Homo sapiens: one gene and its partner. The protein of the gene in region 1 purifies or fractionates together with the protein of each later gene. This does not show direct contact. Each region holds a gene or a part of one and is shown in the gene's direction. Other genes may lie near its edges.

Evidence for each region.
Region 2: the proteins of CARS2 (region 1) and TMBIM1 fractionate together in Homo sapiens (co-fractionation; one large-scale study listed by BioGRID). This does not show direct contact.

Annotation. Positions count from the first base shown.
Region 1 is NC_000013.11:110,640,606-110,644,016, reverse strand, and holds the end of CARS2 (probable cysteine--tRNA ligase, mitochondrial), read left to right. Parts: intron 1-36; exon of another isoform or gene 37-684; intron 685-1,495; coding exon 1,496-1,702; intron 1,703-2,408; coding exon 2,409-2,480; 3' UTR 2,481-2,600; downstream 2,601-3,411. UniProt on the Homo sapiens protein: Mitochondrial cysteine-specific aminoacyl-tRNA synthetase that catalyzes the ATP-dependent ligation of cysteine to tRNA(Cys). In addition to its role as an aminoacyl-tRNA synthetase, has also cysteine persulfide synthase activity.
Region 2 is NC_000002.12:218,286,002-218,289,812, reverse strand, and holds part of TMBIM1 (protein lifeguard 3), read left to right. Parts: intron 1-2,515; exon of another isoform or gene 2,516-2,606; intron 2,607-3,032; exon of another isoform or gene 3,033-3,473; intron 3,474-3,811. UniProt on the Homo sapiens protein: Negatively regulates aortic matrix metalloproteinase-9 (MMP9) production and may play a protective role in vascular remodeling.

The DNA of each region.
Region 1 (3,411 bases):
GAGCCCCCTTGCCTGGCACATGTTTTGTACGGACAGGACGGGCTCCCCGACAGGCACGAGTCACCTGCACCTTCCCAGCGAGGCTCACCCTGGCTGTGCAGTGAAGGTGGACGCTGCCAGGCTTCTCCACATTCCTTCTCTTCCGTTGTAACTCAAGAGCATTTTTGCAAAGAGACTTGGATCCTATGAAAATGTCCTCTTCCTTATCAGGCTCACCTGAAACTCGTTTATTCTATCAATACAGATTTGAGGTTTCCTGCCTTATTCTTAAAGTCCCCACCATCACTTTGTATGTGGCTGACAGAGGCCCCTTGGGGCTGGCGCTGTGTCCCTGAACATCCCTGTCATTCTTTGGACACCCTTGTAGAATTCTCAGCACAAGGCGCTCTGGCTCTTTTGGGGTGTGGCTCGGCTGCTGCTGCCTGGACGGGGGCTGCCACTCTAGACCAGCTGCCCAGCACCCCGAGGGTCCCGCCGCTTGGGACTGGGGCCCAAGCAGGTGTGCTGAAGGCCTGGCTCTGGGCCAAACATGTCTCGCTGGCTCTCAACAGAGAACTATAGTGTCTTTTCCAAGTTTGGCTCATTTGTATACCTGTTGATCACCTGGTAGACTTAGTTCCCCTTTCCAGCAGTCCGGCGTCTGTTGCCAATCACATAAAAGTCGACTGGTGTGAGATGACCCAAGTTTTTGCAATGTACATGTTCATTTTTAGGGGTGGCTTTCCGGAGTCTGTTTTGAGTAAGAAAAGTGGGATCTGGCCAAGCTCTGCCTAGCCCTTGTCAAAGATATCTCATTCACCTTCCTCTGGCCGCAAGGCCCAATGTCTGGGCCCACTCTGGGCTCATATTTCTGTAATAACAAAAACTGTCTTTTATCATGGAAGCAATAACTGAGGGGTGTGTGAGGTTTAAGTAGTTTGACACCAAGGTCAAATGTTGTGTCTGTTTCTTATTTTACACACATGGATTTAACAAATAGGTACAGCTGCCCCTTCCACACCGCCCCAGGATCTGTTCTCAGTGGGAGGACAGCGCGAGGCCTTCTGCGCAAATCCCGTCCTCAGCACCTGAGGCTGTGAATCTCAGACCATTTGCCGAAACACACGTGTGCAAGCGCTCAGTCGCTGCCCCCCAGCCTCATCCTCAGGTTGCTCCTGATACCTCGGCCACAATTGCGTGAGGTCTGGAAGCCAGGGAGCGTTTGTGTTCAGGGCGGGGCGGCATGCAGCCCCCAGCCCTTTCTTCCAACTCCCGAGTGAGGATCACTCAGCCTTGCTTGGACGACAGATGCTCAGAGTTGAGTGGAGCCTTGCCCAGAGCCCAGCGCTCGCGGGCTGTACCCATCCCTGCCAGACCCAGAAAGAGGCCCAGCTGCAGGGAATCAGGGAAGCCCAGGGCTGGGTGGGTGTCGGCCCAGAGCCCAACCACGGGGTGGGGAGGGGGCATCCACAATCCACAGTCTCCGGGGGACGTAACCGCGCCCTGCTGGCTTCAGTACGTTTCAGGAGACGGCAGCGAGGCTACCTTGCATGGTGTGGTGGACGAGCTGGTGCGGTTCCGGCAGAAGGTCCGGCAGTTTGCGCTGGCCATGCCCGAGGCCACGGGGGACGCCCGGCGGCAGCAGCTCCTAGAAAGGCAGCCCCTGCTGGAAGCATGCGACACCCTGCGCCGGGGCCTGACTGCCCACGGCATCAACATCAAGGTGAGTGCCGCACCAAGGTCAGGGACATCACCCCAGGAGCCGGGTAGGTCAACAGGACGTGGGGCCATCAGAGGCCCAGACATCCCCCGTGACCATGCTTTTTTTTTGAGACGGAGTTTCACTCTTGTCACCCAGGCTGGAGTGCAATGGCGTGATCTCGGCTCACCACAACCTCTGCCTCTGCCTCCCAGGTTCAAGCGATTCTCCTGCCTCAGCCTCCTGAGTAGCTAGGATTACAGGCATGCACTCCCATGCTCGGCTGATTTTTTATTTTTAGTAGAGACAGGTTTTCTCCACGTGGGTCAGGCTGGTCTCAAACTCCCGACCTCAGGTGATCCTCCCACCTCAGCCTCCCAAAGTGCCAGGATTACAGGCGTGAGCCACTGCGCCCTGCCCATGCTTCTGAGTAGAGAAACCCACCCCCATAAAAAATGAGGTGGGAGGGCCGTGAGGGAGGGGCCAAGTTGGCTGCAGGGGACGCTGAGCACGGGGACGTGGGTCCTGCTCAGCCCCCGCCACCTCCTGCAGGTGCCTTGAAGCTCCTGGCCTTCTGCTGGAGGTAGTGGGGCCCTTTCTAAGCGCCTGGCAAGCTTTTTAGGACAGGCCGGTGAGGGAACAGGCACCCTGAACCTGATTACGCCTGTCAGCCCCCTGTGCCACATGACGTGGTGTCTGCTCAGAGTTGGACCTCACTCTTCTTCTCCAGGACAGAAGCAGTACAACATCCACGTGGGAACTGCTGGATCAAAGGACAAAAGACCAAAAATCAGCGGGCTGAGGATGGAGCACAGCCATGAACCTGCTCACGACAAGACGCACCCATGCTTCTCAGGGTCAAGGCTTTATGTTAAAGCTTCCTGTCGGGGCTGCTAGGTCAGCATTAAAGTAAGGCAACCAACAGTGTCCCACTGGCGTCTGTTTGTTAGTAACTGAGCCTAAACACTCACTGCGTTCTGTGGCTACAGACTCACCGTCGATTGAGTGAAGTAGTGTCAGACATTCAGTAGCATCCAGCAGCACACGTGCCTGTGCGTGAGACCTGCTGGCCCTGTGCCCAGGGAACAGACAACACAGCCAACAGAAGAGCAGGGACCCCGGGAGGCGGCAGAATGCAGCCTGTTTCCTCCTGAGGGAGGGGCTGGGGATGGGTGAGGTGGGTGGGCCACGCAGCATAGTCTGAAGCAGAGGTGGGACGCCAGCAATGCTAACCCCGGGACACCTCCCCCAGCAAGAACACAATCTTACGTTTTCTCTCTGGTTACAAAAGTAACGTATTCAGCATAGGAAAAATGCAGCTGAGAACCCGTCTGCAGTCCCGCTGCAGTTAACATCCTGGCAGCTGCAGGCCATCTTGGTGGTCATGGTCTGTGCAGAGCAGTGATGGGGTCGAGCTGGGCCTGGGAAAGGTTGGTTCCGGAGGAGTCAGGGCAGCCAGGCTGAAAGCCAGCTGGCGAGCTGTGACAGACAGGATTCCTGAGCGGGAGGTGGCGGCCAGCACACGGCAGGCTGCCTGGGCTACAGGACCGGTGGCCTCCTGAAGCACCCACCTTGCTCCTGATCTCACCCTTCTGTGGTAAGCCCAGCGCCACAGCTGTCAGTGACTCAGCAGGGTGACCCCTCTCCACTCTTCCTGCTCGCAGACCCTGGGCCAGGCCTCTCCCTGTCACACTGGCATCTCTGAATCCCAAGGGCACAGGCAGCAGCGGGAC
Region 2 (3,811 bases), on another chromosome or scaffold:
ACATGCCATGTACTTCTGCCTCTGAAGATGTCCTTGGAAACAGTTGCACATCAGTAGTGACCCCCTGGTGTAGGTTCTTGGGGAGCCATGCCATTCTGCCCTGAAGCCTCCTGTTAGGCTGTTCATTCAGAATCAGAAACTGGCAGAGTGGACTTTGATCTTTCAGTTTTTTTTTTTTTTTTTTTTTCTGTCGCCCAGGCTGGAGTGCAGTGGCATGGTCTCGGCTCACTGCAACCTACATCTCCTGGGTTCAAGTGATTCTCCTGCCTCAGCCTCCCGAGAAGCTGGGATTATAGGCATGTGCCACCATGCCCGGCTAATTTTTGTATTTTTAGTAGAGACGAGGTTTCACCATGTTGGCCAGGCTGGTCTCGAACACCTGACCTCAAGTGATCCGCCTGGCTCGGCCTCCCAAAGTGCTGGGATTACAGGCATGAGCCACCGCGCCTGGCCATTCTTTCATTTGAGGGGAATTGTCTTACTGATGTTAAAACTGGGTCTAGAGATGTGGCTCTCACAGTGGAGTGAGTCCCAAAGCCAGGACAAGAACTTCAGGTCCCCACCTCCTAGCCCAGGACCCAGGCTTCAGATCAACTTTCCGCAGGGGAAAGAAATAATGGTAGCAACAACAGCTTGCTCAGCTCCTTTCTATCTATCGTTTTGATCTTTACTGCCTTGGCCCCACCCTGGTGCTGCCTATTCACGCAGGTGCGTGCTACAGATGCCTCAGGGGCTTCTACTCCTGCCTGATATAAAAGCAAAGAGGCTGAATTTTAAATCAGGTGTGAGATCTATGCTTAAACTCATCTCTGCTGTTTGCCTGCTGTGGGACCCTAGATCTCTTTTTTTCTGAATTTCAGTTATCTCATCTATAGAGTGGGATGAGGGTAAGAATACCTCACAGCACTGTTGCAAGGATCAGATGTGCCTTAGTTACTATAGGTTGAGTGTCTCTTATCCAAAATGGGACCATTTTGACAATTTCCTTCCCTCCCTTTTCTTTTACCCACCCCAACTCCCTTCCACCCCCAAGAAAACACTTTACTCTCCTACTCGAGCATATAGTCACGATAGCCATGGGGGCAGACATCTACAGTGGCAGAAGCACATGGATTTTGGATTTTTTCGGATTTGGGGCTATGTATATTATACTTACTGGTTGAGCGTCCCTAATCTGAAAATCCGAAATCAGAAATGCTCCAGTGAGCATTCCTTTGAGTGTCATCTTGGTGCTCAAAATGTTTTAGATTGTGGAGCATTTTGGATTTTGGAAATGAGGGATATTCAACCTGTACTTCCTTAGTTATATAGTAAGTACTGGAAGTGGTTCAACTACTCTAAGTGGTTCCCTTCCTTCCCTAGTTATTTTATTTATTTATTTTTTGAGACAGAGTCTCCCTCTGTTGCCCAGGCTGGAGTGCAGTGGCGCCATTTTGACTCACTGCAAGCTCCGCCTCCCGGGTTCATGCCATTCTTCTGCCTCAGCCTCCCGAGTAGCTGGGACTACAGGCGTCCGCCACCACATCCAGCTAATTTTTTGTATTTTTTAGTAGAGATGGGGTTTCACCATGTTAGCCAGGATGGTCTCGATCTCCTGACCTCGTGATCCGCCCGCCTTGGCCTCCCAAAGTGCTGGGATTACAGGCGTGAGCCGCCATGCCTGGCCCCTTCCCTAGTTCTTTTTTGGGGTTAGTTATCAGTCTCCTTTGTCTGTCTCTTTCCCCTCCTAATCTTGAAGTTCAATGAAAAGACAGGAGATGAAACAAAGAAGGAAGTGAACAGGGACTGTGCTCAGAAGTATTATAGCATCAGCCTGCTAATGGCTTCCTCTTCCCTTATCTGTACTCCCAGGCCATCCTGACTTGGGTGGGGTAACCCGAGATTACCATTCTGATCACAGGATTCTGCTCCAGACAAGGGTGGCGGAGCTGCGGTGCCTGGGTCCTCTCGTGATCCCCAGGACAGCCTCTCCCTCCTGGGAGCTTGGAGCCACCCCTCGGTCTCCATGGGTCCAGAGAGAGGCCACCCTGGCTAGAGAGGGGGCTGGGAGGGGTGGCCTCGAGTTGGGGGCCAGAAGTCGAGGGCTGGCTGTCTTTTTTTTTGAGATGGGGTTTCACTCTTGTTGCCCAGGCTGGAGTGCAATGGCATGTTCTTGGCTCACTGCAACCTCTGCCTCTCGGGTTCGAGCGATCCCCCTGCCTCAGCCTCCCGAGTAGCTGGGACTTCAGGTGTGGGATATCACGCCCAGCTAATTTTTTGTATTTTTTAGTAGACATGGGGTTTGACCATGTTGGCCACGATGGTCTTGATCTCCTGACCTCGTGATCCACCTGCCTCGGCCTCCCAAAGTGCTGGGATTACAGGCATGAGCCACTGCACCCGGCCCGGTCTTAACTGTTTCTGAGCTGAGAGGTCACTAGAGAACTGAGAGAATGGTAGCTTGTTCTGGCCCCTCCTTGGGAGAGGGTGTGTGCTGGTGTCTATCACTCAGAGAGTGGGCGGGGCTGGGAAGGGAAGTTCCAAACCCATGACGAAGAAGAGGGCTGTTCTGGGGTGGAGCAGGAACTTTCTTGGCTCTGGGGTTTCCTTGTCTGTCAAATGACCAGGTGAGATCCAAAGTCTAAGCCAGCTCTGATATTTTAGTGTTTAGATCCCTGTGGCTTCATCCTCTTAGTCCCAAAGTCCAGGCTGATGGAAGGATATTTAGTTGATTCTGGGCCCCCTTGGTGCAGAATCAGGCCTGGTGACTTGCCCAGACACTCCTGGGTGTATCTTTTTACTCATTTGCTCTCGTGGCTATGAGGTCAGCTGTGCCCTGGGGTAGGAGGATAAAGTGTTTTCTTGTGGGGGCAGATAAAGGAAAAGGGAGGGGAACAAATCGTCAGATCTGGGCTGTGCTCCTGCGCCTGCTGGGTGGGGTTTCCTGAGATGTGCATTCTGAGCTATTTTTTTCCACTCTGGGCATCCGTCTCTGGCAGGGAGGAGGGCAGGCTGCCTGGACCAGTCAGCTGCTCCTTTCCATCCCTCCCTCCAGTACACATACTCTCCTCTTGCTGTAACCCCAGTAGCTCAGGCCTCCTCTGCAGATTCCGGAGCCTTAACCCTTCAAATACCCCCAGGAGAGCCCCAGCCGGGGCCTCAGTAGGCAGACAGCAGGATTACCACACTGAGAGGGCTCCAGGGGAGGAGGTGCTTCCGCCTCTGCATCTGAAAACCTTGACACCCAGCAAGTCCTGCTGTCTGAGCTCACCCACTTGTGCCGCTGCTGTGGTAGAAAGCAGGGGCTCTGGTTCCTTCCTAATGGGGGACTGGGGCCCTGAGAGAGGAGCAAACTTAGATCTATAATGGGCAAGGATAGGGCACAGTCTGAATGCCTTGATAACAGGCATTGTGAGGCAAGGAAGAATGTTCTAATCGAGCTGTCTGCAGACAAGGGGCTTGCTCCATGTTGCTGGAGTTCCTTCAAGCAGAAGGTGGGCCAGACACAGTGGCTCATGCCTGTAATCCCAGCACTTTGGGAGGCCTCGGTGGGTGGATCACTTGAGGCCAGGAGTTTGCCAGCCTGGCCAACATGGTGAAACCCCGTTTCTACCAAAACAAAAAGAAAAACAAAAACAAGCAGAAGGTGAATGCCTACTGTATTTTGGGAAAATTCAGGCTTCCAGTGGGGACCTTAAAGTCCCTGCAGACTGTGAGCCCCTCTAGTAGCTGCTGGCAGAACCCAGATCTGATTTCTAGTCCTCACTCTGTGTCAGTCTCGTGATCTCTCTCCCCTTCTCCCTCCTTCCCTTACCCTCCATTCTTCTCTAGC